4 separate regions of the Homo sapiens genome follow, and regions 1, 2 and 4 are each linked to region 3. Evidence: fine-mapped expression QTL. A gene starts in region 3. Each other region holds a variant in brackets. All regions are shown on one strand. Distances are from middle to middle.

The links.
Region 1: its variant is fine-mapped to the expression of C2orf92 in whole blood (TOPMed, PIP above 0.99).
Region 2: its variant is fine-mapped to the expression of C2orf92 in whole blood (TOPMed, PIP above 0.99).
Region 4: its variant is fine-mapped to the expression of C2orf92 in caudate (GTEx, PIP 0.96). The same link has a PIP of 0.9 or more in pancreas.

Annotation. Positions count from the first base shown.
Region 1 is chr2:97,832,887-97,840,413 of GRCh38, reverse strand. TMEM131 (transmembrane protein 131) reads left to right here. Exons shown (of 41, transcript NM_015348.2): 8 at 3,257-3,337; 9 at 5,489-5,639; 10 at 5,737-5,793; 11 at 6,988-7,049. Among named protein-coding and RNA genes, the nearest start is that of ZAP70, 120 kb to the right of the region's middle. The variant T/A (reference allele first, on the strand shown) is at 3,610.
Region 2 is chr2:96,880,120-96,887,646 of GRCh38, reverse strand. All of the region lies in intron 14 of FAM178B (family with sequence similarity 178 member B), which reads left to right. Among named protein-coding and RNA genes, the nearest start is that of SEMA4C, 14 kb to the right of the region's middle. RefSeq lists enhancers at 1-45, 5,050-5,605. The variant C/T (reference allele first, on the strand shown) is at 4,071.
Region 3 is chr2:97,665,978-97,673,504 of GRCh38, reverse strand. C2orf92 (chromosome 2 open reading frame 92) reads right to left here and starts at 3,792. Exons shown (of 8, transcript NM_001351368.2): 1 at 3,671-3,792. The coding sequence starts at 3,716.
Region 4 is chr2:97,092,093-97,099,619 of GRCh38, reverse strand. It overlaps FAHD2B (fumarylacetoacetate hydrolase domain containing 2B), which reads left to right and starts at 4,738. Exons shown (of 9, transcript NM_001320848.2): 1 at 4,738-4,919. The variant C/T (reference allele first, on the strand shown) is at 4,567.

The sequences.
Region 1 (7,527 bases), 170 kb before region 3:
TTGCCCCACTGTGCCGTAGAAGGGCTGTTAACAGGGTGCCCCAAGGGTGCTGCCTCATTGTGGTGGCCAGACCACAAGGATGGAGCTTGCAGGACTCAGCAGATGTTGGTCAGTCTACAATTGCCAGAGTTGCCTTACAGTCTGTACCTTTTCTCTTCAGCCTTTGGAGTTACCAAGCCCAGCACAGTGATCACTTCGAATTCAATTCATCTAGTCTTTTTCCAGTTAAAACATTTTAATTCAAGATTTACACAAGAGAGCAAATGGAACACCAAAGTTACTCTCTTAGAACCAAATATAGATTGTTTACCTGGGAAGACACTCTTACCCTTGTAGTCCAGTGTTACTGTGTGTCACTAGTCTTGTCAATATTACAGTAAGAAAAGATTGTAAAGCGAGAAAATGTATATCGTTTGTTGATTATACAACATAAACACATGAGTATGTTCTCCTCAGGAAAAAAATGTTAACAATTCAAACATGAATGAAGCAAAAACGTCCCTTTGAACTTCCTACTTCCCAGTCCAGCTGTCCAGCAGAACTTTCTGTGATGATGGAATAGTTCCTTTCCTGCTTTGTCCAAAACAGTAGCCGCTAGCTACGTGTGACTGTTGAGCTCTTTAATTCAGCTAGGGTGGCCAAAATGTTATTTCAACTAATTTAAATGTAAATAACCACATGTAGCTGATAGCTATTGCATAGACAGCATAGTTGCAGTCCAAGCCCTTCCTCGTGGACACCACTTTTGCCACCTTGTATGTATCATTCTAGACCTTTCTCTTGTGCATGCGTGTATGTGGGCACAGAAACATTTATTGTGGGAATTTGTTTACACATAATATATTCTGTACATAATGTTTGGCTTCCTTTTTTTCCTAAACTATACTAAATTAGAACAAATAGCACTGGACTAAAAATAAAGAATGTGTCAGGTTCCTAGTTTTAGTGTAATTATTTGTTTGACTTTGTAATTTAGACTTTTTCTGTCTCTATTTCTTTATTCATTTTCTCTGTTATCAGTAGGCGACTTTTTAATCTTCTGGGGGTTTTTTTGGTTGGTTGGTTGGTTGGTTGGTTGGTTGGTTGGTTGGTTGGTTGGTTTTCCAGACACCAGGCTGGAGTGCAGTGGTGCCATCTTGGCTTACTGCAGTCTTGACCTCCCAGGCTCAACCAATCCTTTTACCTCAGTCTCCTGAGTAGTTGGGACTACAGGTGCACGCCACCACACCTGGCTAATGTTTTTTATTTTTTTGTAGAGACAGACTCTCACTATGTTGCCTAGGCTGGCCTACAACTCCTGGGCTCAAGTGATCCCCGCTACCTTGGCCTCCCAAAGTGCCGGGATTACAGGCATGAGCCACTGAGTCTGGTCTAATCTTCTGTTTTCAAGCATTGTTATGCTTGTTTGCTTGATACTTGGAAGGATTGATGAAATAATGTGTGATGTTTTCTGGTTTTCCAGAAAAAGTTCTATAGTCATCCTATCATTTAAGGTGCTATTATTATTAACACAATAAGCACTATAGATGAGCACTGTAACAAATCAGCAGGCAAGTAATAATATACAAAGAAAATCTATAGCTTATCAGTCTTTGGTAAATGCATTACTTTTACAGCAGCAACTCCCCGGCCCCTGCCAAAAAAACAAACAAACAAAAAAAACCTTTAAGGGTCCAGGCGCAGTGGCTCATGCCTGTAATCCCAGCACTTTGGGAGGCCGAGATGGGTGGATGACGAGGTCAGGAGTTCAAGACCAGCCTGACCAACATGGTGAAACCCCATCTCTGCGAAAAATACAAAAATTAGCTGGGCGTGGAGGCATGTGCCTGTAATCCCAGCTACTCAGGAGGCTGAGGCAGGAGAATCACTTGAACCCAGGAGGCAGAGGTTGCAGTGAGCCGAGATCACACCATTGCACTCCAGCCTGAGCGACAGGGCGAGACTCCGTCTCAAAAAAAAAAAAAAAAAAAAAAAAAAAAAAAAAAAAGTTTAAGCTTAAGAATTGCCATTTTTCTTGCTTTATCCTTTTTTATTCACTCCTGGAGGACTTCTTGTGATGAAACAAGTGAACGTTTCCACCCATTCTCATACTTCACCCCAAATTTAATTGAATTAAATATATTTTTTCTTTTTAAGAATTAGGGTTAGCTTACCTTTAAAGGAAGGTCTCCTGCCTTGTGACCCATTTTGTGTATATATATTTACCCAAAAGAAAGGAAAGCAGATGACCACACCAAGACTTGTACTCAGTATCCACAGCAGCTTTCTCTTTAATGGCCAGACATTGGAAACAACTCAAATGTCCCATTAATGTGTGGATTGAAAAACTGCGGTATAGTCATCAAATAGAAGTGAACTATTAATGCATAAACAAAGTGGTAGACCTCAAAATAATTGCATTGAGCAAAAGAAGCCAGACACAAGAGTATATGTTGTATTATTCCATTTAGATAAAACTCTAGAAAATATGAGCTAGTCTGAGGTGATAGAGAGCAGATCAGTGGTTGCCTAGAAATAGGAAGGGACAGAGAAGGATGGATGGATTGCACAAGGCATGAGGAAGCTTTTGGGGATAATGGATATATTTAATATCTTAATTACAGTGATGGTTTTATGCCCAAACACATAGGTCAGGATTCATCAGGTTGTATACTTTAAATATGTATTATTTATTTTACATAAATAACTCAATAAAGCTGTTTAAAAAAAGTAAGCTTAGGCATAAGCCACAGAAATATTTTTGCTACCAGTAGAAACCACATATTTTCATGTTCCATTAGAGTTATTTTGTATATATCTCAAATATTTTTACTCTTCCCCATCTCACAATTATGGTAGTTATTTGATCCACTGCTGGCTCTTGTTATAAATGTATGGATAAAGAAGCACTTTGTGTTACTGTAAGAAATACAAAATTTATGTTTCCAAAACTTGGTAATTTTTGTAAGTGATTCCCTTTGGAAAAAAGAAAAATAAGTATCCTGTTACTTTCTAAAATCTGGTCTCTGGAACAACTATGGTACTTACACTGTTTCTAAGTTAAATTTTCAAAGTTACCTTATTTTAATTAAAAATACAACTATTGCTTACACATACAGAGCACTGAATTTAGTGATATTATACATATCCTACGTTTATATCTTTAAATGTTTTGTGATAAACAGTTAGGATGTCAGAATTATTTCTGTGTAATAGCAAGTCACCTGCTTTGAGAATATGACTTTGAACGTAGCCATCATGTGCTCTTTTGCCCCAGGTTGTAGAAATGTACTCTAGTGGAGGAGACCTTCACCTAGAACTCCCAACGGGTCAACAAGGAGGTACCAGAAAACTGTGGGTGAGTTGTAACCTAGTTTTCTCTTGTGTGTGCTCCCATGAAACCGATTATTCTTAAATTAGAAAATATTTAACTCCTTAATAGGCTTAACAAATATGGATGACTTCTCTTTAATCGTTGTCTTAATGTTAATTTATGTCAAGTATATATGAAAATTGGAGGAGGAAAGAATATAAGTAGTAATTTTTGGAAAGGGCAGTGAGTAAAATTGGTGGGAGTTCTACCCCACTACATGGAAAGAAAGTAACTTCAGCTATTCTTCCTCCGAATTA[T/A]ATGGGTAAAGTTGTCTCTGAGTCTGATAATTTATGATGTGCTTTACACATAAAAAAATGTAAATGATTAAAAAAATGTAGGAAGCATTCATTATGTTTTTGTTTTGTTTTTGAAGGTAAGTAATTGAATGTTCAGATTCACCATTGGTAAAGGAGATGGCATTTGCAGAGAGAACCTAGTCAAGTGCCTGCGATAACTTAGAAAAATTTTAATTCTTGAAGGTGATCTGTGTTCACCTTCAATATTGTTGAATATTTAACAATATTAACCAAATTAAAGAATATGTAAGAGAACCTTATTTATAAAGATTCTTGCCATTTGTGAGTTTTAAAAATGTTTACCATGCTTTAATTCAAGAGGGAGAAGGCAATTGTGGTCAATTCAGTTCCATATCCAGCTCACTCAGATCACTGCTCATCTGTAATGGAGGAACACAAATTTTACAACCAGGAGTAAGGTTTGAGGATCAGAGTTTCTTTATTAACTGCTGTTACACACACACAGCCTCTTGATTCTGTCTTCTGACCAGTCTTGACCACAGAAGAGATGTGGAGATTATGTTTTTAGAATGTTAATATGAACATCTAGAAACAAATTTATCAGCCAGTTATTTGGTTAATTCCCAGAATATAGAAACACAACCAGCAAAAAGAAATATGCAATGGACAGTTCATTTATATCCTTTCACAAAAATGTTTCACCTTGAAATTGTGGTGTTTGAGGGAAAAATCATCTATAAAACAATCCTTCAGAGGATTAAATTCAGACTATTATATCTGTATATATTATTCTAGACAGAACTAAGAACTTCCTGTGAAACATAATTGGTATCTAATAAATAAACCTAAGAGAATTCAGATTTTTAAATAGTCAAGAGTGATAATGATAACAGAGAATAGCATGTTTTTATAGTCCTAGTGGCTGCAAAAAAAGATATGGTAGTTCTTATTCCTACAAACCTAGACTGAGAAAAAAGCCAATGGGCTGTGACCTCACCTCCAGCCTATTTCGGTGTATAGGTGAAAACCCCAGAGACCAAGTCAACTCCCTAGAGCTGGGGAGTGGATGGTCCATCCCTCCAATCTTAGGAGGGTCCCAATCACCTGTTTTCTACTTTGGGACTAAAAAAGAGAGTAGGGATAAGTGAAGGCCACTAAGCTGTAGAACACAAGAATCTCCTAAAATATGCTGAAAGGTTTGTGCAGAGAAGAAATTCAGGCAGTCCCAGGGAGCCATATTGTTCTGAAACCAGGAAAGAGATTACTCCTCAAAATTTTTTTTCCAGTAAGTCTTCCTTTTAGTATATAAATGTTCTCTCATTACGGGACTGAAAATGTATGCTGTCTTACATGAATGCAGTTGGTAAACTGTGGATTTACTTGAGAAGCTTTGCATTGTTAAGTTTTCCATGAAAGAGCAGTGTAAGCCCTGCTGGTTATCATTTATGAAGGTTCTTGTGGACTTCTAGAAAAGTATTTACCTCTGATGGTGACATTTCTGTTGGTTAAATTTCAAGACTGAGTTATATACCCAAACACCACTAACTAGCATATTAAAAAATAACTGATTTTGTAGATTAGTTTTACCTTTTAATGGTGATTTTGTAACTGACAATTTGTTTTCAGATCATTTGACTTCTTTTGCTTTGCCTACCTTACATATCGTATTTCATCAATTCTAAACAGCACATTTTTCACATTTTAAAGTTCTCCAGAAATGGAGTGTGTGTTACATATTGGTTTAATTAGCAATGCATTTTTTTTATTAATAGGTATATAGAATACTCATCTTTCAGTCAGTGTCATCCAGTTCAATAAAAAATGGTGGTTTTGCTACATTACAAAAGCTGTGCTACATTATGGTCTGTTAACTTGTCAGGAAATTCCTCCTTATGAAACCAAGGGAGTGATGAGAGCCAGTTTTTCATCTAGAGAAGCAGATAATCACACAGCCTTCATAAGAATAAAGACTAATGCTTCAGACAGCACAGAGTTTATCATTCTTCCTGTTGAGGTTGAAGTTACAACAGGTTAGTGGAAAACTGATGAAATCGAAAGTTGTTTTGTTTTCAGTATAGCTTACTCTGGCAAAGTGAAAAATAATTGTTGACTTTTCTTTTTTCCAAGCTCCTGGAATTTATTCCTCAACTGAAATGTTAGATTTTGGTACACTAAGAACACAAGGTAAAAAAATCTTTTAAAAGAGTCTTTATGGAGTTTTTTTTTTTTTTAACCCCTGTATTCAGTGCTGAATGGCTCTACTATGTAATTCAGCTTTAAACATTATTTCTCAGTTGGTTGCATGATCTTGTACAAATCTCCTTTTCAGACTCAGCGCCTTTACAGGTTTATACCCCATTCCGCTGAGGGGTGGGTGGCATTGCTTAACAGGTTGGAAAACAAGGCCATGGGATAATTTAAGTCATCTAAATGGAAGATTGAGGCAGAAAATAGTTTTCTAGTTTCTTAATCCAGTTGCTCATCAGTTCAGTTACGCTGAATCTTGATTTTTACTTCTGGATTTTGTTTAGATATGAGTTATTAAATTACATTTTGACAAAATGTTGAAAGTTTGTTGCAGCTGTTCAGAAAACTCAAATTCTGAAATTAAAAACAACTAAGTAAAGATTTTTGCTAAGGAAAAACTAAGAGCACTTGTAATTTGGGATGTATATGGACTATATATAATAATATGTAGTTAAGATTGAAGACCATATGTTTAAAAATTAGATTTGCTGTTAGTATATTTTTACATTGTAAATTATTAATTTGCTTCATTATGTTTTGCTGGAAAGCTAAAAGATTAGTAATGTCTGACTTCACAAAAAAATAATATTTGGGGGGCTGGGCATGATGGCTCATGCCTATAATCCCAGCATTTTGGGAGGTGGAGGCAGGCAGGGCACTTGAGGCCAGGAGTTCAAGACTAGCCTGGCCAACATGACGAGACCCCATCTCTACTAAAAAAATAATACAAAAGTCTGCTGGGCATGGTGGTACATGCCTGTAATCCCAGCTAGTCAGGAGGCTGAGGTAGGAGGATCACTTGAACCCAGGAGGCTGAGGTTGCAGTGAGCCAAGAATGCCCCACTGTACTCCAGCCTGGGTGACAGAGCAAGATTCTGTCTCATTTAAAAAAAAAAAAAAAAAGTATATATTTTGGGGTTTTCAAAAATCTGGTTTAAGAGGGAACAGTTCTTATAATACACAATGTCCTTATGAGTAAAGCAATTACCACCTAATGTTTCTTTTTATTAATCTTATTGTCATTGTATTTCACAAATTGATAGCTTCAATTTGATATCTTATAAGGTAAAGATTCTAACTTGGCTAAAAAGCACCTTTTTAAGAAATATTTCTTTTCCTCAATTTTAACAGATCTACCAAAAGTTTTAAACCTTCATTTATTAAATTCAGGAACAAAAGATGTACCAATAACAGTAAGTTTTTACTTCTTTTTTCCCCTAATTTATATATTCTTTGTTTTTAAATGTATGACAAAGTTAAAAATAATTAAACCCTTATTCTAAAATAATTATATTTGGTGATGACCTGGTGACACTTTGGTTCTAAGTGTGATGTGAGAAACCTGTTCTGCCCCAGCCACCCGGATTTTAAGGATGAGAGAGAAATGGGCAATCTTTTCAAAGTAAGTTTGAACCAAAGTTCATGAGTTTCTTATACAGGCACAGTCATATAAAAGGCCTGTTCTGATAAATCCTAAAATCTGTGGGCCATGTGTATAGAAAAACAGGTTATAAGGATTTCATCAGATTTGGTTGTTGGAGTTAAGGTATGGGCAGGAAAGAGGAAGAAGAGTCAGATGAATTGGGAAGAAAATAAGCAAAAAAAATGTTGTAGGTAGTGGTAAAGTGCTGTTAACACTTGTCACAGGCTCCCTAACTAGCAGTTATTGAG
Region 2 (7,527 bases), 790 kb after region 3:
CATGGCTTCACTGCTGCACATCACACTGCGACATTTGAATCCAAGCAGTGATGCTCTCCCAGAAACGCTCTGTTCTCAACGCCGCGTCTTTGCTCCTGCTGTCCCTCCTTCCTGCGGAGCCCAGACTGTCTCTCCCGTCCTTGGATTGCTACGGGCATGGCTCAACCCGTGGCTTGTTTACATCTTGCTTCACATACTTGAACAGCTACCTTTTAGGGTCAATCCAGAGTCTCACCTCAGGCACAACCCCCATGGCTCCCCCTGAAATGCCTCACCCTGTCTAGATACAGTGGCTCAAGCCTGTAATTTCAGCACTTTCAGAGGTTGAGGCAGGAGGATCATCTGAAGCTAGGTGTTCATAGACCACCCTGCACAACATAGCGAGACCTTATTTCTGCAAACGGTTTGTTGTTGTTGTTGTTGTTGTTGTTTGAGATAGAGTCTCGCTGTGTTGCCCAGGCTGGAGTGCAGTGGCATGATCTTGGCTCACTACAAGCTCCGCCTCCTGGATTCACGCCATTCTCCTGCCTCAACCTCCCGAGTAGCTGGAACTACAGGCGCCCACCACCACGCCTGGCTAATTTTTTTGTATTTTTAGTAGAGATGGGGTTTCACCATGTTAACCAGGATGGTCTCGATCTCCTGACCTCGTGATCCGCCCGCCTCTGCCTCCCAAAGTGCTGGGATTACAGGCGTGAGCCACCGCGCCCGGCCAAAAGGTTTTTTTTTAAAAATGAGCCAGGTTTGGTGTTAACACGACACGGTGGCATACGCCTATGGTCCTAGCTACTCGGGAGGATGGCTTGAGCCCAGAAGTTCAAGGCTGCAGTGTTTGAGGCTCCCAGCTGTGCACCGAAGACGGCCAAGCACAGTGGGGAAGGTCCCTTACACGCCATCCTCAGTCTGCAGGAACAGCTCCCAGGCCGACCATGGCCTTCTCAAGTGCTCTCTGCGCATCACGTTTTCTGTCCCTTCTTCCCTGTCTTTGCCAGGAGTTTTTAGTGACGGAAACACAAACACAAATCCTGGAAAGCCCTGGGACAGTTCATCAGACTTAGAGGGACCCAAGGGCTAAACAGTGTCAAAAAACCTCAGTGTCACACCCTCCTCCTCCGGGCTCTGGCCCTTGGCGCCTTCCCAGGCAGGCTCTCCCCTCCTCCAGGCTCAACAGCCTTCCCTCAGCAGCCCTAGGCAAGTGACTCAGCTTCTAACCTAACACTCTACCTGGGTCTCCTCATCCTTTAACTCTTCCTGGACAAGAAAGAGCTTCGGCCCTCGAATCGTAACCAGAATGGCGTCTCATTGGCTTGGTTTGGGTCAGGTGCCCGTCTCTAAGCCAGTCACATTGGCAAGCTAGCATACAGTGAATGGCCAGCCTGGGATACACGTTCACCCCTCGAGTCAGGGCTGGAGTCACCACCATGGAACAGTTTGGTCTGAGTGTAGGGGACAGGAGGCTGGGACACTCTTACAAAGGAAGGGAAAGGACAGGATCCCTGGACGTGTGCAGCATCCCTGTGGTTCAGTCACGGGCAGTGGCCTTGTGCTCTGGTGTTGGTGGGAAGGATGAGGAGGGCAGTCCCAGGCTCTGGCCAGACGTGCCAACACCGCGGAGACAATTCAGTAAGTGAAAAAGCGAGACAAGAAGGGGAAGCCATGGGGAAACCATTGCTCTGTCAGGTGGTTATGCAACGCCCTGGCTGGTGTCAGTGACCCCCTCCACTCTACACGCTCACACGCACACTGACACATATGCACTGATGTATACGTGTACTGGCGTGAACTCTTACACATAGGCACCGAGAATCTTGTCCCTCTCTGGGTAGCTTGCAGAGCTAGGTTTTCTGGTCCACATCTCCCTGGTGTCAAGGTCTCTGGTCCCAGCTGGAGCAGCAGGAAGACCCCGCCAATCCCTGCCTGTCATCTCCCTGACCCCCACCAGCAGGAAGCCAGAGAGGAAGGTGGACTGGGTGGGAGCCCTCCGCCCTCCAGCAAGGATTTGCCTCCAGTGCCTTGGCTCCTGCCACCAGCCGGCGGATGGAGGAATGGGGAGACGCTCTGAGATAACCTCCCCACGGCAGGTCTGCAGGAATCTGGAGCTCTCAGCCTTCCATCTCTTTCCCTCCCCAGCCCCATGCGCCATGGCCTCCACATTCCCTCCCTGTCCTCAGTACCACGAGCAGGAGCCAGGGCTGCTCAGGGCCCAGGCCCCAGGCCCCAGCTAGAGATAGAACTTAAGAGATCCCCGCTGTGAAGGGTCTCGGATCTCTGAACTCACTCTCCAGGAAGCCAGAGGTGCAGGTGAGAGCTCCTGTTCTGAGGGCGTGGAGGGTGTGGGCACGTGCTGGGCCCCGAGTCCTCTGCAGCCTGGAAAGAGACACCCACCTCTCTACCCAGCAGGGCCCAAAAGCAAACTTCCATTCAATGGCCATTCACTGCAGCAGAGCCGGAAGTCCTGCCTGTCCAGCTGCTGCCAGCCTGTCTCCCATTAACCCTAAATGGGCCTCATCCCTGCTCCGTGTTTAGGGACCGTGTTTGGGTCACCCCCACCCCTTGCCCTAGCAGGCACTTTGACAGAATTGGGTGTCTTGCCTGGCAGGCCCCACCAGTGACGTCTGCTCTCTGGCTAAGACGTCTGCTCTCTGGCCTCTTGGCCCTGTGTCTTCTGGGACCCTAGGTTAGGAAGAGGTCTTAGGTCACCCGCCTCATTTCCTAGTGGTCGGTTATATGTCTTCATTTCTTCCTCACTAGGGCTTATGACCGGCGACCTGTCCTGGTCAGAGTCACTTCCCAAGTCAGCTTGCCTTTGGGAACAGAGCTTTCGATACCGCCCTCTGCTTCCTTCTTTAGTGTCTGCCAAAGCCAAGGCTCAGAGGTGCAACCTTGGAGCAGAAGCTGCCTGGCCAAGGGGAAGAGGTTGTGCGGTTTGCTCATGGGGCAGGGAAGACATGGCAGCCTCGTCCTGGTGGCCAGTGCCACACTGCTGGGGCTCAGAAGGCACGTAGCTAGGAAAATGCATCCCCTTTCGCCTGGTGTCCTGTGGACACACCAGTCACCTAAGCTCTGTCTCCCTCCCCAGACTGAGGCTCTTGGCCTGGGGCCTGAGTAGCCCTACCTCAGATTACTCATGATTCATCGCTGTTGTGCCCAACCTGTGTGGATACCTAGACCGTGCCCCGGGGGCCCAGCCTGCAAAGGGCTTTCCTCCTCCACCCTGGGGGAGCAGCCTCAGCCTCGCCCTATCCTTCCAATAGGAGGCCCGTGGACCCTTGCTGTTTCCCAAGGGGGATGTCCACAGTGTGAATCCTCTTTAGAGACCCCACCACCATCCACGCACACCCGGGGAGCTTGTCCTGCTGAAGGCTGAGAGCCCAGACATCTGCTCTTGGGCCAGACCTGCCCTTCCTGGACACAGGGTCGTGCACATCAGGAACCCTCCCCATGCCGCAGCTTCCATGTCTGCTGAAGGCGGGGTCCCAGGCCCTCTCTGTGTGCGCTACTGGATCAGGATGCCGTGAAGTGGTACTATATAGGTTTAAATTGCACAAAAAAGGGAAAAAAAGGATTGTGGCCCAGCCCCAGCCTCGGGTCTGAAAGGGCCCAGGGTAGACCAGCACAGCTTCAGCCTTTCCCAGACTCCGTTAGCTCTAGAGTCGATCTTCAGTCCGTGTGCTTACACCTCTGTCCTGAGAGGACTCGTGTGTGGCAATGATGATACCAAGGCAGAATGCTTCTCCTGGGCTGGGCTGGACCTCTAGGCTCTCGAGATTGGGCTGAGAGCAGCCCAGCCAGGCTAGGGCTGTGAGCATGGAAAGGAGAAAGCAAGAGGACCCCCCCTGGCTCCTGGTACCCCAGGCCAGAATCCCAGCACCAGCAGACATCAGGGCCAGCTTCCTGAGTGAGAGGCAGGGACGGCTGGGGGTGAGCCCCTGGGCCTCAGCAGCCTGGCTGGGAGAGCCGTGCCCTTTGGGTCCATCTTCGTCCTTCCCAGCAGGTGTTCCTGGGTCAGCCTTGGTTCTCCCCCCAACACACACACAGTAGCTGCCCCAGAGCCTAGCTGGACCTGCTCC[C/T]GCAGGGTCCTCCTGCCAGAAACAGGTCTGCCTTCCCCACCCGGTCTGGCAGCCTCCAGGAGAGAGCTGGATTTGGGAAGACTTGCCCGGGGTTAAGACTGGATTCTTGGTCATGACCTGATGGGGGAGAAAGGTTATATGTTCTGGCCAGAGCGAGTGGCTTCCTGGGAGAGCCTCTCCGTCCTCCTTTCCTGCCCCCCTTCAGCGTAAATAGCCCAGGCCACAGCCCGCTCCCTTGGCATTGGCTAGAGGGGAATTTTCTAAAGGATGAAGTTCCTGGGAAATGTCCACCCTTTTTCCCTTTCGTCTATGACAAAAGCGCTGCTAATGGCTCCTAGTTGACTTGGGAGTCTTGGCTGGGGGAGCCTGGGGTCAGAACTAGCTGGACCAGAACATGGAGATGCTGACCTCCCTTCCTCTGGTGACAGTCCCAGTCTGCTGTCTGCTGTCACTCAGCCTTGTCATTCCTTCCCCAGGGGGAGGGCACGGCCCCCTTGAAGGCTGTAGAGCCAGGAGTGAGGCATTCCTGCATGGAACTTCTCAGAAGAGCCAGCCCACCAGACTCTGGGGAAAGACCCAGAAAACGGGAGCTCGGCCCTTGCTGGCAGCGGCCGCAGGGATGGGCTGGGCTTTTCTTGTCAGTATTGGGTCCGGGCATGCCCTCAGACTCTGCCTTTCCCCATGATGTTGACTGAGGTTTCCGGGGTCCCATTTCCCATTAGGGCTTCCCAGCCTGACTAACGTGCCATGGGGCAGGAGCTGGGTCCCGTCTTCAGACAAGGTTCTGAGGCCTGGACAAGTGTAGCCCCCCAGCACCCAAGGAGGGCTAACCCTGAGGCCACAATGACATCCCCACCGCACCAAGCAGTTCTAAGAGACCTGGAAGGGCCTCCCTCTGGCGTATAGAAGGGCCACCTTGTGCTCCCAAAGGGAGAGGAAGCAGGTAAGGCAGGGAGTGCAGCCTGGGCTCAGCCTCTCTCTCCTGCCTCGTGGAAGGGAAGATGAACCGTGCCTCTGTAGTGCCAGCCAGGACAGGAGCAGGCTTGCTAAGTTCAGGAATTGGTCACACTGCGAAGGAAGCAGGAAGCGCAGCTCTCACACCTGGCCCTTCTTGTCTTGCTGGGAAGGGCCCCCTCACTCGCCCACCCCTGCCTGCCCTGCACCACTCCCGTGCCTGCCCCTGCCACGTTGGAGGGAAGGGAGCTCAGGGAGCCGCCAGCAGTGCATCACCAGCAAGCCAGCTGAGCTGGGCGAATCGGGTGTCCACAGCCGCTGGCGGTTTAGATGGGGAGACTCAGGGTCTGCCTGCTCCTGGCTACAGAGTTCCCAGTTTCCACTGAGGTTTTGTTCCTCTGACCTTCACACAGAGAGAGGGGTCTGGTGGGAGGGTGGGGACACCTTGCTTGTTGTCTGGACAGGATCAGACTCTCTCTTACCTCTTTGCAGCTCTGAGACCAAGAGTCCTGGGGAAATGCAGGGAGGAGATGGAAGTGTGGGTGTTTCCTATGCCAATAATGAAGGCTTCTTTTCAAAATCCCTACTGGGAACCCAGCTTCAGCCAAGCTCCCAGAGATGTCCCAAGGGAGGGCATCTGCACAGCCACCAATCTCCTTAAATTGGGTCAACGTCTTCCTTATAGGAAGCACCTCAAATGCAAGGAAGACATGCACCCAGCCACCCAGCCTCCAGGCAGTGGCAGGTTTAGGTTTTTCCCTTTGGGAAAAACAACTTATAAAATGTGGTTAACAGGGTTTTTCTCTAGGACTGCCATTTCCTACTCACTATCCACCCAAACACTCGGAATAGTTTTTCTGGGATTCCCCTCCCCCCTCCCTGCCCCCTGCAGATTCAATTATGGGAATTAGCATAAGAAACAAGTTGTGAAACCAGTAACTCTCCACTGCCTGGGGTAAGTCCACTGACAGATTTTTCCTCCCTGATGTTCCTCCAGGGCATTCCTCAGATCTCAGACCCTCCCCACGACTCCTTCTAGGAGGGGAAGTTCTGCAGCCGGGCCTCCTCCAGACAAAGAGACTCCCCCGAGAGCCCATGGGTGGAGCAGGCCAGTGAGCTGCGCCATCAGCAGTGGGGAGTGAAAGGTCTGAGAGGGACAGGCCCCCTTTCGCCCCTCCCAGTCCCACACATTCTCCCTCGCAGACAGCCCAGGGTGCCTTCCCCAGCTGTCCTCAGTGACGGCCCTGATAACCCTTGGATGTTTTCTTCGGCATCCCCTGCCACCTCTCATCATTAGATTGCCCTCTCAAAGAGGGGCCTCAGCTTCTTCCTTTTTTTTTTTTTTTTTTTTTGAGACCAGCTTTTGCTCTGTTGCCCACGGCTGGAGTGCAGTGGCACAGTTACAGCTCACTACAGCCTCAACCTCCCAGGCTCAAGTGATATGCCTGCCTCAGCCTCCCAAGTAGCTGGGAATCCAGGTGACCATGCTGGATAACCTTTTGGTTTTGTTTTCTGTGGAGTCGGGGTCTCACTATGTTGCCCAGGCTGGTCTCAAACTCCTGAGCCACAGCCTCCCAGAATGCTGGGATTACAGGCGTGAACCACCTTGCCCAGCCTGGGTCTCGGCTGCTTTTCATGGCCAAGTCCCGCTCCCATGCCTCACACCCACCCCAAACCCAGTTAGGTTCAGCCAATTACCGTTGGCAGTATCTTGTTAAAAAAAAGTTTTAGCCGGGCGCGGTGGCTCACGCCTGTAATCCCAGCACTTTGGGAGGCCGAGGCGGGCGGATCACAAGGTCAGGAGATCGAGGCCATCCTGGCTAACACGGTGAAACCCCGTCTCCACTGAAAATACAAAAAATTCTCCGGGCACGGTGGCGGGCGCCTGTAGTCCCAGCTATTCCAGAGGCTGAGGCAGGACAACGGCGTGAGCCCGGGAGGCAGAGCTTGCAGTGAGCGGAGATTGCGCCACTGCACTACAGCCTGGGCAACAGAGCGAGACTCCGTCTCAAAAAAAAAAAATGTTTTAAACCAACTCTCATTGTATTCTCCTTGTATGAGTACACACATTGTAGAGAAATAATCTTAAAAAAGGAAAAAGGAAAGGTAGGGATACCCTGTAATCCTTTCTCCCAGAGAGAGCTCATTTTCCTGCTACCTAGTACATTCCAGCACACCAGTGTGGCCACATTCTATCACCTGCCTCCCCCAGGCACCCCCAGCCTGTTCCCACAACTCTGCCCCCCAGGTTGTCCCCACTCCCTTGCACCTGTACTGGCCTCTGTTTCTGGAACCGCCCTCAGGGTCTGTGGCTTCTGTTTCTGGAACCGCCCTCAGGGTCTGTCATCAGCCCTCCTCTGCCTGCACAGGGCCATCTTTGCCTCGAATCCTACTGTTCCTTTGAGGCCCACTTCAGCTTAGTCAATTCCTGAAGCCTCTAAGTTGTACTCGCCATCCCCCAAAAAACCCTGGAAGGGCCCTTTCTCCTTTTGGTCTGTGCAGA
Region 3 (7,527 bases):
TCCTTCACCAACAATCTGGCGCTCATGATCTCACTCCAGCCCTGGTAGGCCAGTGTGTGACATGCAAGACACCTGGAAACAGCATCTAGGAAACACTAGCTCATGAGCTACAAGCATCATGAAAAGCCCTTGAAGCAGTCATTGAAGGGGTGCTGCAGACCAGCCATAGCCCACACCAAGATCACACATGACTCACACACTCCACCCCACGCTTCGTGCCACTGAAGAAGGATGTGGAGCAAGGAGCCCAACCCCAGCACTTCCTGGGATGTGACTGCCTGGGACCCGACAGACACAAAGGGGAAAGCTGTCCTCAGAGAGTTTTGAAGCTTGTGTAAAAATGTTCTATATGAAAATTGTACCCACAAAAACAGGGGTAGGAGCCATGGGGGCAGAAACAAAGCAGAATAGATTCTATAAGCTCGGAAATCTCTTTGTTTATAAAGCTGTTGCTAATTCACAAGGGTTACATTTTTGAAATATATTAAGTTCTCCTTCCCTTTTAAGTTCTCAGGTTTCTGGCTTCCCTGGGAAGAAGCAGTTTTACTTTCCCTTCCAGGCTTTCCTTGCTAAGTCACAGAAAACAGTCCTCACAAAGCCCACTCATCCTGCATTCTCAGTGCATTTCCAGGGCTGTTGGTCCTCGGTGGTTTCCACTCGCTTGATGTAACAGGAGCTCACCACAGAGACACCAGAAAATGAACCATCGGGGTCACCAGGACAATGAGGAGCTGCTCTCACCACCTGTCCTTGATGACCATGCTGACCTACGAGTCCCTGGAAATGCTGCCCAGAGGGAACTGCAGAGTTGAGCCGTGGCCTCCAGTGCCAAGGCCCACCTGGTGTGAGCTGGGCTGGTCAGTGGACTCTTGAGGGGTGATGGGAGCTTCCCAAACCCCCAACCAGACTCCCATCTTCAGATGCAATCACTCCCCTCCTACACATATGGGGCCGAATTCAGAGACACTGGGGTCACCTGCAAGGCCGAGAACAAGGCTTCTGCCTCCTAGACAGCAGGTGCTGAGGGCACAGCTAGGGGGACTGCGAGTGCTACCTGCATCTGCTCATGCATCCCCTCCTGGTCACCTGCCAGGCAGTTGTCTATGCAGACTGCCCGAGGCCTCTGTGATGGCTCCCGTGGGGAGGAGCAAGCCCAGCGCTCCTGACACGGACAGCTGCCGGAACGGAATAGAGGCCCATCGGGTGTCGAGAGATCTGCTCCCTTGCAAGCAGGAATGAACAGGCATCGCTCTGTGATCCAAATGCCTCCTAACCCGGGGGGAAGCATCAGCGCCACTCTCCCAGTTGCTCCTTCTCACACCTAAGGTGACCCTCAACCTTCACTCCTGATGCACAGCCCAGGCACCCTCAGGAGAGACTTCACTGGCCTTTGGACAGCTTCCTTCAGCAGACAGCTGTGGTTCAGAACCCTTTTCTCCGTCTCAGCTCTCTGCTAAAGACTTCCCTGGGCCTTAGTTTTTCTCACATGTTCAGTGGAAGGTTCAGAGTGGAGACCAATGAGTCTCAGCCTAGTGTCCCCTGGAGGGTTAGAAAACTACAAATGTGAAGGTCTATCCCCACACCCCAAAATCTGATGTGGGGTGTGTGTGGAATGTCTCAATTGTTAAAAAGAGGATTGCCCCAGGGGTTTTCATGCTCAGTTAGGGCTGAGAACCCCTGGAGGAGGTTCAGCTCGGCTTTGGGGCCTCAGAGCAGAAACTGGCGAGGCAGGTGTGTCACAGCTAGTGTGAGGTGGCATCTGACGCCGCAGTCCCACATGGCCCTGCTCTGCTCCACTGATGCTCAGTAGGGTCCTTTTGAGGTGTTTATCATCTGTTTTGCTTAATTTCCTGAGACTGTGACACGTAGACAGATTCTAGCCTCAAGGAAGAGCACCTGCCTTCCCTTCACAGCAGCGGGAACAGGTTACCTGGGAGACAATGAGGACCATGCACGCAACTCTTCAAATCCAGCCTGAGGTTCCACAGGGAGTGGGGTAACTCACCAAAGATTTTAGCCAAACCTTCATCAGGATTTTTTGAATTTGAGGAAAATTCAGGCCAGGTGCCGTGGCTCACGTCTTTAATCCCAGCACTCGGGGAGGCTGAGGTGGGAGGATCACTTGAGGTCAGGAGTTCGAGGCCAGCCTGGGAAACATAGGGAGACCCCCGACTCTACAAAAAATAAAAATTAATTACCTGGGCGTGGTGGTGTGCACCTGTGGTCCCAGCTACTCAGGAAGCTGAGGCAGGAGGATCCATTGAGGTCAGGAGTTCATGACCAGCCTGGCCAACATGATGAAATCCCATCTCTACTAAAAATTATATTTTAGTAATTACTAATTTACTAGTAACTTACTAATTTAGTAATTTATTAGTTTAGTAAATTAGCCAGGCGTGGTGGCACACGCCTGTAATCCCAGCAACTTGGGAGGCTGAGGCAGGATAATCACTTGAACCTGGGAAGCAGATGTTGCAGTGAGCCAAGATAGCGCCACTGCACTCCAGCCTGGGTGAGAGAGCGACACTCCATCTCAAAAAATTAAAAAATTAAAAATTAAATAAAATTAGATAGTGATGCTTCACAACTCTATGAGTATACTAAAAACCACTGAATTATATACTTTGTAAAGGGTAAATTTGGCCAGACATAGTGGTTCATGCCTGTAATTCCAGCACTTTGGGAGGCCAAGGTAGGAGGATCACTTGAGCCCAGGAGTTTGAGACCAGCCTGGGCAACATAGTGAGATCCCTATTTCTACAGAAATTTAAAAAATTAGCTGGGTGTGGTGGTACATGCCTGTGGTCCCAGCTACCTGGAAGGCTGAAGGGAGGATCCTTGGGCCTGGAATGTTGAGGCTGCAATTAGCTGTGATTATGCCACCGCACTCCAGCTCTGGGTGACAGAGGGAGAACCTATCTCAAAAATAATAACAATAAATAGAAAAATAAAATAAAGGGTGAATTTTATTATATATTATATCCTATAAAGTTATTACTAATTTTTTTTTTTTGAGACAGGATCCCACTCTGTTGCCCAAGCTTGAGTGCAGTGGTGTGATCACGGCTTACTGCAGCCTCGACTTTTTGGGCTCAAGTGATCATCCCACCTCAGCCTCCCTAGTAGCTGGGACCACACGCACGCATCACCATGCATGGCTAATTTTAAAATTTTTTATACAGACAGGCTCTCATGATGTTGCCTAGGCCTGTCACAAACTCCTGAGCTCAAGGAATCCTCCTGCCTTGGCCTCCTAAAGTGCTGGAGTTACAAGAGTGAGCCACTGTACCCGGCCTAACCCTGTTATTTTTTAAATAGTGCATATATATAGATAAAATCAGGAGGGTTAGTTAGCATATGGTGGTTCTTTATACTAATCTTTCTACTTTTGCATATGTTTGGAAATGCTTACAGTGAAAAGTTAAAATACGCATGTATGCCACCCTCCTATAGAGCTCTGAATTTTGAGAAAGCTTCAAAGTTAGGAAAATGTTTTCAGTTACTCCCTTCCCCCAAGTAATAAACCCTGAATGGCAGATTTGGGGAGGTATAGAAGGTAGAGTAGGTAAAGCATCTGTGTTCCCCACACTGTGGGAGGGAACGCCCTCCTCTGCCCCACTTAGGCTTGAAGTGAGGCCCATGTTTCTCTCCAGCTGCCACAGCAATATACCTTGGATCCAGCAGAGAACAAAGAAGAGGGCCATGGCTCTGCTCATCTTTGCCTTAGTCCATAAACCATCATGGAGAAGCCAGTCTTCTGATGGCCCTTCAGATTCAGCAGCTGTGGACTCCAGGGTACCACGGAACCTAACGGTCTATGAAGTCATACACGGAAGTGAGGTGGAGCCTGCTCAACCATGAGAAGGGGAAGGGCCTGTGTCTGTGGACAGTGACGGGGGCTATGCTGGTGGCCCTGAAGTGACTGCCTCTCTGCTCACTTCCCTCGGCTCCCTGGTGCCTTCCTCCATCCTGCATGTCCTGAGGGCAACAGGATATTAACCAGGACTCTGAAGTCACAAGTGATAAAACTTCAACTAAATTGGCTGAAGCGAATTGGAAGTAGCTAGAATAGCCAGAAAAATCCTATGATCAATCAAGACATCACAGCCGGGCGCAGAGGCTCACACCTGTAATCCCAGCACTTTGGAAGGCTGAGGCAGGCGGATCACCTGAGGTCAGGAGTTCCAGACCAGCCTGGCCAACATGGTGAAAGCCCGTCTCACTAACAAAGTGTTGCTGCTTATTATATTAGGTAAAATTATAACACCAAAAATAGCATAGACCAATTGATACGCCCATTTTGTTACTCACGTGTCACTATTTCCCTCTATTACATTTTATAAGTATTAAACTGTTTTCAAAGGAAAAATCTATTATAGTACCTTGTACTACACTTTTTTCTAGTTTTTTCTCCATGTTCATTTTGTAATGGGTCCCACAAATTATGTAGCCAGCCCTGCCCTTGAGCCTTCATGTTCTTACAGTGTCTGTTCCATGGCTGAGATGGCAGATATCTTTTAGGGGTAAAAACTTGCACAAAGAGTTATATAGGGCCGGGCACGGTGGCTCACACCTGTAATCCCAGCAATCTGGGAGGCCAAGGCAGGCAGATCACTTGGGGTCAGGAGTTCAAGACCAGCCTGACCAACATGGTGAAACCCCATCTCTACTAAAAATACAAAAATTAGCCAGGTGTGGTGGCGAGTACCCATAGTCCCAGCTACTTGGGAAGCTGAGGCAGGAGAATCACTTGCACCTGGGAGGTGGAAGCTGCAGTAAGCCAAGATCACACCACTACACTTCAGCCTGAGCAACCGGGCGAGACTCTGTCTCAAAAAAGAAAAAAGAAAATAATCTGCATAGAAGTGGACCCGCACAGTTCAACCCTGTGTTGTGTAGATGCTGACTGAATCGTCTCCCAGTTCTGGAGGCTGGAGGTCTGAGATCAAGACGTCAGCAGGGCTGGTTCTTTCTGAGGCTGTGAGGGAAGTCTCTGTTCCAGGACGTGGGCTCAGATGGCCATCTTCTCCTTGGGCTTGCAAGACATCTTCCCTCCATACACACCTGAGTCCACATTTCCTCTTCTAAGAACACAGGATCATATCGGATTAGGGCCTGCCCTAATGACTTCATTTTAACTTGATTTCCTCTGTAAAGACCCTATCTCCAAATACAGTCACATTCTGAGGTTCGGCGGGGTGGCTAGGACTTCAACATATGAAGAGAGGGTACCATGTAATCTGTAACAGCAGGTCATGGTAACCACAGAAATCTTATTTCTCTAAAATACCTTCCAAAACAAAAACAAAAACTAGAATAAAAAATAACAAAGAATATATAAAACAACACAAAACCCACACCCTCACCACAACCACAGGACAGAAAATGTCCAAATTCCAAATGACTGGTAAATAGAAAAATAAATGCTAACCCGGGCTCCATCTCTTTTGCTTCTGCTGCTGGCCTTTGCAAAGAGGAAACCTGGAGGTTGAAGAGGGTCTAAAATCTCCATCCTGAGTTTGCAAATGCTGAAAGCGTAACCTGGTTGATCAGTACAAATACCCAGGGGTGGAAGTGCCCTGGGGACAGGAGATTGGTGAGACTCTCTCACCAATGGACTCTCTCTCCCTCTCTAAAAAAACAATGATGTTTATTCAGGAACGGGCATTACAATGGGAATAAGTATGGATGTGTTCCAGGAGGTAAAGGAAGACATTTTTTAAAGAAAAAATGAAAAGGGTTACATAGGCTTTTATAAGACAATCATCTTTGGGGCCAGGCACGGTGGCTCACACCTGTAATCCCAGCATTTTGGGAGGCCGAGGCAGGCAGATCACAAGGTCAGGAGATCGAGATCATCCTGGCTAACACGGTGAAACCCCATCTCTACTAAAAATACAAAAAATTAGCCAGGCGTGGTGGTGGGCGCCTGTAGTCCCAGCTACTCGGGAGGCTGAGGCAGGAGAATGGCATGAACCCGGGAGGCGGAGCTTGCAGTGAGCCGAGACCGCACCACTGCACTCCAGCCTGGGTGACAGAGTGAGACTCCATCTCAAAAAAAAAAAAAAAAAAAACTTAGCTGGGCATGGTGGCGGGAACCTGTGATCCCAGCTACTAGGGAGGCTGAGCCAGGAGAATTGCCTGAACCCGACAGGTGGAGGTTGCAGTGAGCCCAGATTGCGCCACTGCACTCCAGCCTGGGCAACAGAGAAAGATTGTCTCAAAAAAAAAAAAAATAAAAAAGAGACCTGAAGGTGCCTCATATACTGTTCAGAGACATTCATGCATATAACAGTCTACACTCGGTGTCTGCTTTCTCTTTGCTTTTACTTAGCAATGTGTCCTGATATGTTTCATATGAAATTATATAGCACTCTCTCATTATTTTTAATGGCTACACAGTGATCTATTTTATGAATGTATAAACACTAGATGCAAATGAATACATACCAATGACTTCATCTGCACAAAGTCCAGAAACAGGCAATACTAATATGTTTTCAAAATTCAGGATAGAGGTCACCTCGGAGGAGGAACAGGTCAGAGACCAAGGGGTAGGAGCTGACGGGGGGGCTGTTCATGCTATTAGGAAAACAGGAGCCTAGGAGAGACAGGGTGACACCATTTTAAAATCAACTGCTTTTTTTTTTTTTTTTTTTTTTGAGACAGAGTCTGGCTCTGTCACCCAGGCTGGAGTGCAATGGTGCGATCTGGGCTCACCGCAACCTCCATCTCCCGGGCTCAAGCCAACCTCCCACCTCAGCCTCTGGAGTAGCTGGCACTACAGGCGCACAACATCATGCCCGGCTAATTTTTGTATTTTTTGTAGAGACAGGGTTTTGCCATGTTGTCCAGGCTGGTCTCAAATTCCTGGGCTCAAGCAATCCACCCACTTCAGCCTCCACAAGTACTGGGATTACACGCATGAGCTACCGTGCCCATCTCAACCCCATCTTTTTTTTTTTTTTTTTTTTTGAGACGGAGTCTCACTCTGTCGCCCAGGCTGGTGGCGCGATCTCGGCTCACTGCAACCTCCGCCTCCTGGGTTCAAGCGATTCTCCTACCCCAGCCTCCTGAGTAGCTGGGACAACAGACGCATGCCACCACGCCCAGCTACTTTTTTGTATTTTTAGTAAAGACAGGGTTTCACCGTGTTAGCCAGGATGGTCTCAATCTCCTGACCTCGTGATCTGCCCGCCTCGGCCTTCCAAAGTGCTGGGATTACAGGCATAAGCCACCGCGCCCGGCCCCAACTCCATCTTAAAACTAGCAAGGCACATTCCTTGCTAGTCCCAACCCATGGTCATAAGATGCTATGGCTAAAAGAGCAGTTTAGTAATGCCTGCAAGGACAAAATCCTACAACAACAAAATGTCCAGATGCTCCAATATTGCCTAACAATATATGATTTAAGATAGTTATAGTTACAGGACTCGATGGCTCACACCTGTAATCCCAGCACTTTGGGAGTCCAAAGTGGGTGGACTGCTTGAGCTCAGGAGTTCGAGACCAGCCTGGGCAACATAG
Region 4 (7,527 bases), 570 kb after region 3:
ATGTTGAAATGTTTGAGGGGGACAGGGAAAGTGTACTGATGTCTATAACTTACTTTGAAAGTCATCAAAAGACAAGATGGATTGATAGATAGGTGGAAGGATAGATAGACATGTGATAAAGCAACTATAGTAAAACATAAATTGTAAGGTCTAGGTGGTGAGTATACAGGTTTTCATTGTACTTTTTTTTCCAACTTTTTTGTATGTTTGAAAATTTCATAATACAATGTTCAAAAAATAAGCCTAACAGCCTAGGGAGATAGGTCAGAGTCAGTAGGATGAAATTTAATGTCAGTGAAGGGCAAGTGGTCTCTTCAGGTGTAGATGCTCTTTTGCTTAGATGAAGAATGAGGAAGTCATTTTCTGCCAGCTGTTCATGTACATAAGGAATGGGTTGCACTCAAGGTAATTATGATGTGCTTCTGTAAGAGATGCTGAATTCATAAATGTTTCCATAATCTCTGGACAAGGAATTGGGCATGCTATCCTACTCCAGACCATTCACATCCTCTTAAGGTGAGATATCCCACTTTCTAAGAGACTTTGGCAAATGAGTCATATCAGTCAGGATGGGCTGAGTTTTGCTGCAATAACAAAAGACTCCCAAATCTCAGTGTCATCTCCCTCATATTCCACATCCAATGTGAGTTGGCTGTGGCTCCATCTATGGCGTTTTTACTCTGGAACACAAGCTGACAGAGTGGTTTTTATTTAGAGCATTCTATCTAGTAGCAGAGGGAAAAGAGACATGGCAAACACAGGCCGGCTTTTACAGAAGCCTTGTAAGGGGTCTATGATGCTCCTACCCACATAGCATCGGCCAAAACAAGTCTGATGGCCAGGCCTTAGTTCAGCTAGATGTGAACACCCCATGCTCCAGCAGGAGGAGGCACAGCTGATGATGACCAACGGTGATTGAATCTACCCCAAGGAGATTATCAGAATGATGTGAGGTCTAAGAAAGGTGAGGGAACTAGGGGAGAGGTGGCAGAGGAATGACATGCTGGTTTTATTCAAACATATTAGAAAATGCAAGACAAGATGTGTTCTGCACAGCTCCAGGGGCAAGCTGAAGACATTTCTACCAGCTAGGAGTCACAGGCTTCAGGTTATCATGGGAAGCACATTCTGACAGGAAGGACTACCCAGCATTAGGGAATACCGAGGGCACGTTGTTACCTGGGCTGCTCCATGCGCCCAGGACAGTGATGACACTTGAAGACAGTGTTGCCTTCCATTCTCCCCCTCCCCATAAAATACTGGGCCCAGCTGCCCACACAGCAGTGAGCTCCCTATCCCTGAAAAAATGTAAGCACAGCCTGGGTGCTCCTGGACAGAGGGCTGTGGATGGAGCCCCTGCATCGCAGGGTGAGGCCAGACCACAGCAAGCCAGAGGAGGGTGTGTCTAGCCCAGGGTACACGTAGGACAGATAACCTGGCAGGGATGCTGTGCTCCTTCTTGCTAACATGTGCCCCTCTCAAGCTTCCAGGAAAAAAAAATCACATAATGAGGTTGCTAAGATCTACAGAAAGAATGAATCTTCTATCCATGAAATTGTGAAGAAGGGAAAAGAAATTTGTGCCAGTTTTACTGTCACACCTCAAAGTGCAAAACTTATGGCTACAGTGTGTGAGAAGCGCTTAGGGTAGAAAAAGCATTAGATTTGTGAGTGGAAGATGTCAACAGAAACGTATTCTGATTGACAGCAACCGTGTAGCACCAGATTAACTTCATCTGGATTAAATTTGTTCACTGGCATCAATGTATAGGAAAAGATGTGGCAGATGTAGGGTTTGGTACTATCTGCAGTTTCAGGCATCCGCCAGGGGTCTTTGAAGATATCCCCCAAGGATACTCCATATAAATGAAATCATCCAATATGTACTCATTTTTAATCTACCCTTTTTCACTCCAAATAATTATCTTGATATATATCCATGTTGTATCAACAATTCATCCCTTTTTCTTGCTAAGTAGTATTCCCTAGTGTGGCTAAACACAGAGTGTTTACACATTCACCTGTTAATGGAAAATTGGGTGGTTTCCAGTTTGGGGATTTTACAAAAAGCCTGCTGTGAACACTTCTGAATACATCTTTGCATGAGCATATTTTTCTTATTTCTCATGTAATTACTATCAAACAAAAATATAAATCTGGATTCCATAAAAAGAGAATTTATTCAAAAGGATTGTTGTGGGGGTTGGGGGGGGGACTATTACAATAAGGAGACAGTCTGACGATGTGATCCTCAAGTGTCTCAGAGGTTAGGCAAAGGGCTGACCTTGTATAGGGAGGCGTAAACGTGGCTAGAAAGAACTGTTATGGGAAAGTGAGCTGAGCAAGAGTGTCATGATCGAGCAGGTCTTACCATGCAGATAGCCTGTTCTCAGGAGGGACCCTCAGGAGGGCGGTGGGTTGGCACAAGCTGCGGGTGGGCCAAAGCTCAGGGGCTTGGAGAAGGAGAGAATCTGAACCAAGGTTTGGTTACAGGCATTTTGTTCTTATTGATCTGTGGGAACAAGCAGTCCAGCTAATCATTTATGATGCCAAGAATGGGAATTTAGAGGGTCTGTGTATGGTCTGGTCATGAGGGGACATTCAGGATTCTTATCCAAGCTATATGGAAAGTCACTGGTTCTTTCCAGTAGGGTGTTTTCTGGAACAAAGGAGTGGAGGGATTCCTTAATCTTCACTATTTCTAGGAGCAAAGGGCTAAGGTGCAACTCAATACTGTCAATAGTTAGGATTGAAATGGCTAGGTCATATGGTAGGAGTATGTTTAACTCTCTTCATACACTGCCAAATGATTTTCAATTGTAGTGATACTATTTTATAATCCCATAAGCAGTGTACAAGAATCCCAGGTCCTCCACATTCTTTCGAATACTTGGTATAATCAGTCTTCTTTGTCCATTCTAGTAGGTGTGAGACGGTGTCACACTGTGCTTGTAATTTGCATATCCTTAATTATTAATGATGTTGAGCATCTTTTCATGTCTTTCAATTTTCTATCTGTATATCTTCTTTGGTGAAGTGTCTGTTTAAATATTTTGTCCATTTAAAAAATTGAATTGTTTGATTTTATCTATTGATTTTAAGTGCTCTTTCTATATTCTGGATACAAGTCTTTTATCAAATATAGCCTCTGAAGATCTTTTCTTTCAGGCTGTAACTTAGCTTTTCAGAAAGTCTTTGGGAGCTATGGCTTAATGAAACACTTACGCCAGGTTCTCCTCAGCACATCCCCCTGATCACAGCCACCCCCATAGGCTCCATTTCTTTTTTTTTTTTTTTTTTTTTTTGAGACAGAGTCTCGCTCTGTTCCCCAGTGGTGTGATCTGGGCTCACTGCAAGCTCTGCCTCCCGGGTTCAGGCCATTCTCCTGCCTCAGCCTCCCGAATAGCTGGGACTACAGGCGCCCGCCAACACGCCCGGCTAATTTTTTGTATATTTAGTGGAGACGGCGTTTCATAATGTTGGCCGGGATGGTCTCGATCTCCTGATCTGATTCGCCCACCTTGGCCTCCCAAAGTGCTGGGATTACAGGTGTGAGCCACCGCACCCGGCCATAGGTTCCATTTCTATATCAGTGGTGACTTTCTGCAAGCTAGGCTGAAGTCCCAAGCTCCAGACCCACGTCTCCAACTGCCCACCGTTCAATGCCCTTTGGATGTCCCATGCAAATTGGAGCTCACTATCATCTCCCCAGACCCGCTGCTCCTCCAGAAGCCCTGTCTCCATGAACGGCCCTGCACCTACCGGGCTAGAGACCCAGGAGCCGGCCTTGTACCTGCTTCCTTCTCACTTCCACCTCCTGTCATCCAGAGCTGTCAGTTCTTCTTCCTGAACATCTCTGGACACTCACCTTCTCCGCCAAGCACCGCACCACCATTGTTCTCACCCGCACCACCCACCCAGATACCTTTCCTTAGACGGGTGGCCAGAGAAAAACTTCTCAAATAGAAGTCGGGCCATGGCACGCCACTGAGGACCTTCCAGCGGTCTCCTGTGCACTTAAACGAGGTCCAGACTCCTTTGTGGGACAAGTAAAGCTCTTGATGATCTGGTCCTTGAGTAATGTGGGGGCCTCTTGCCCAGAGCCCCTCACACTCTTCAAAGCCGGCAGCTGAAGAGCTGAGCAGTAGCTGTCTGTGGAGTTCAGCCACCGCTCCCCGCACGCCTGCCCTCTGCAGGGGATGGAGCACCGTTTCCCCACTTCCCCACCTGCGCCCAGCAGTGCAGGTGAAGGCCTGGCTGCGGAGAGTGGCTGGGAAACGCTGAGCTTTGGGGTCAGGAATGCCAGCTCCACTACTCACCGCCTGTGTCACCCTGGGAAAACAGCTCTGGCCCCAGGTTCTCCATAAGTAAAACAGGGTCACTCATCCCTCCCCTCCTTAACGACATATGTCAGAATCAGAAGCCACAAATCATTCTCTCCCACCCAGCACGCTGCCTTGGTCTCCTAGACCACTTTCCCCAACAATGGGAAAGGCGCCAGGCCCAGAACAAGGCCGAGACCGGATGAGGCCAGCGAAGCGCCCAGGGACAAACTTTCAGGCAGCGC[C/T]CACTCTCGGTCTCGGGCAATTGCAGGGTCCCTCCGAGAGCGACCGTCTCCAGAAAACGCGGCCGCCGCCTGCCTATGCCCTGAGCCTGAAGAGCCCCCGGCGCCGCCCGCCCCGCACTGGGCCCGCCCTCCGGGATTGGTGCCCTGCTAGGGGTGGTTGCCTGTGACGTCACAGGACGCGCCCGCTTCTCGCTGGAGTGCGCACCGAGCGGCAGTGACTTCGCCGCTGCTGTAGTTCCCCGGCTGGATGCGGTGACTGGTGCCAGTGCTCAGGCGCCCGCTGCCCTTGACCTCCCGCCCCGCGAGCCCTAACTCAGCGCAGGAGGACCGGCTGCCGCCGCCGCCGCCGCCAGGTAGACCAGGCCTGGCTGGGTTAGGCCAGAAGGGTGTCCCTGGCGCAGGTCTCCCGCGGAGGGCAGAACTAGAACCAGGTTCCCGGCCGTTTCCGACCACACGGATGGGGCGGACCCATGTGAGCCCTCACTAATTGCAGGGGACGAAGCTGGGCATATGGGGAAACTGGGGGTTTCCAGGCGAGTGGACGGTGGGATGGGATCCGACGTGCACACCCACGTTTCAGGCTACTGTTTCCACCTCACGTCGCCGCCCCTTTGCTTATGGACTCTTGCAGAGTTGGATTGAGCTCGGACTGTGTGACATAGTGGTTGTTGCAGAAGCCCCAGGGCCACTTTCTGACTAGTACCTTGGGCACCTGACGTCATCCCTTTGAGTCTCAGTGTCCTCTTCTGTAAAGTGAGGGCGCTTTACCTGAGGGGATTGCTGTAAGGTTGGAATGAACCTGCATGTGTGTGTCATGTGGGAAGGGAACAGTCAATGGGGCCTGGAGTTCTCTTGGAGAGCTGGTAACCAGCCTCGTCCCTGAGGCAATAGCCAGAGAGCGCCTGTAGTTTCCCCACGCATGGCTGTTTGCAGGGCCTCTGGAGGATCTCCTGTGGGAGGTCCCTACTTCTCACTACAATCTTTAGGGCCTTTGGAGGATTTCCTATGGAAGGTCCCCACTTCTCACCACAACATTCTGGGTTAAAATGTCCTTGGTAGGAAGATGGGGCTGAAGCTAGATTTTCTTGCTTGCATTACAGGCTTCTGAACCAAGGACTTCAATGTCACCTGGACTTGGATTCACATCCCAGCTCCCTCCCCTCCTAGCTTTAAGACTGTGTAACCTTGGGCAAATCCCTTAACCGCTTTAAGCCTTAACTGTTTCATCTGTAAAATGGGACTAACAGTACCTACCTTCCACAAGCGTCAAGAATTAAATCAGGCCGGGCGCCGTGGCTCACTCCTGTAATACCAACAATTTGGGAGGCCGAGGTGGGCGGATCACAAGGTCAGGAGATCGAGACCATCCTGGCTAACTCAGTGAAACACCGTCTCTACTAAAAATACAAAAATTAGCCGGGCGTGGCGGCATGCGCCTGTAGTCCCAGCTGCTGGGGAGGCTGAGGCAGGAGAATGGCATGAACCCGGGAGGCAGAGCTTGCAGTGAGCCAAGATTGCGCCACTGCACTCCAGCCTGGGCGACAGAGCGAGACTCCATCTCAAAAAAAAAAAAAAAAAAAAAGAATTAAATCAGACATTGTAGGTAGAGCACTTAATAGTTGGCATTCAGCGGCAGCAGTTACTGTTATGTTAGCATGTGGAGTGTCTGAGTGTGTGCACTTTGGCTCGAACAGCCTTTTGACAGTGGCACAGTTGGTGCTTGTGTAAGATAGCAGGGCAGAGAAGTCAAAACTCTGTTTTCTAGTCAAACTGGCGGGCCACAACAGTGGTGACCTAAGTCTAATGAGTCTTTAACTGAACAAGGCAGATTGAATCTCCAAGTGAGGACCAAGAGTCTGGGGCTCAGCTGCCTCAACATTTTTGGGCATAGAAGGCTGTACAATACAAACTGCCTTTGTTGGAAGAGCAAGGAACCATTCAGGGAAGGCACCATGTGGTAAGGAATAGTGGCCAGACTTGGATTCAGAACAAAACAAGAGAATAGTGTTTGTCTTTAAGTGGAGCCTTGGACTCAAAACAGGACCTGAGCTCTGTGGATAATTTCTTTTTTTTTTTTTTTTTTTTTTTGGAGTCGCTCTGTTGCCTGGGCTGGAGGGATGTGGCATGTTCTTGGCTCACTACAACCTCTGCCTCCTGTGTTCAAGTGATTCTCTTGTCTCAGCTTCCCTAGTAGCTGGGATTACAGGTGCCCGCCACCAGTCCTGGCTAATTTTTTTGCATTTTTAGGGGATACAGGGTTTCACCATGTTGGCCAGGCTGGTCTTGAACTCCTGACCTCAAGTGATCCACCCACCTCGACCTCCCAAAGTGCTAGGGATTTCAGGTGTGAGCCACTGCGTCTGGCCCTTGTGGATACTTTCTAGGTGATTTGAGGAGGAAAGGCACAGCCATGTCTCCTGAAGTTAACAAGCATTAAGCTTTCCCAAGTAGTGAAATGTCAAGCCCCTGCTTCTGTCACTTATTTGTTCATTTAGCAGAAAGTCACTGAGAGCCTTCTGTGCACCAGGCACAGTGCTGGGCAGTGAAAGAGACAGACATGTGCCCTGGATCCAGGGAGGAGATGACCAAGTGATGGCTGTCAGGCCTAGACCTTGCTGTTTGTCTGCAGCCTCTTCCCTCAGGCAACTTGTTCTCTATCAGGAGAAATGAAATAATTATTATCTGGGGAGGCAGGTGGGGGTGTTGCTCCTAGAAGACAAGGACAGCCTGGTAGAGGTTCTAGCTTGATCATGTGAGCAGTGGAAACCATTTTAAACAGGACCAAAATAGCATTTAAAAAATTGCTTATGGCCACTGTGAAGCCAGTTTCACCAGCGTCACTTGCCCATGCTAGGCTGCCACCCAGCTAATTCCTGGTCCTGCTCATTTAGCCCAGCTCAGCTCACATCACTTCCTCCAGAAACTAGACAAGGGTAGAGCCCCTGACCATCTTCACAGCAT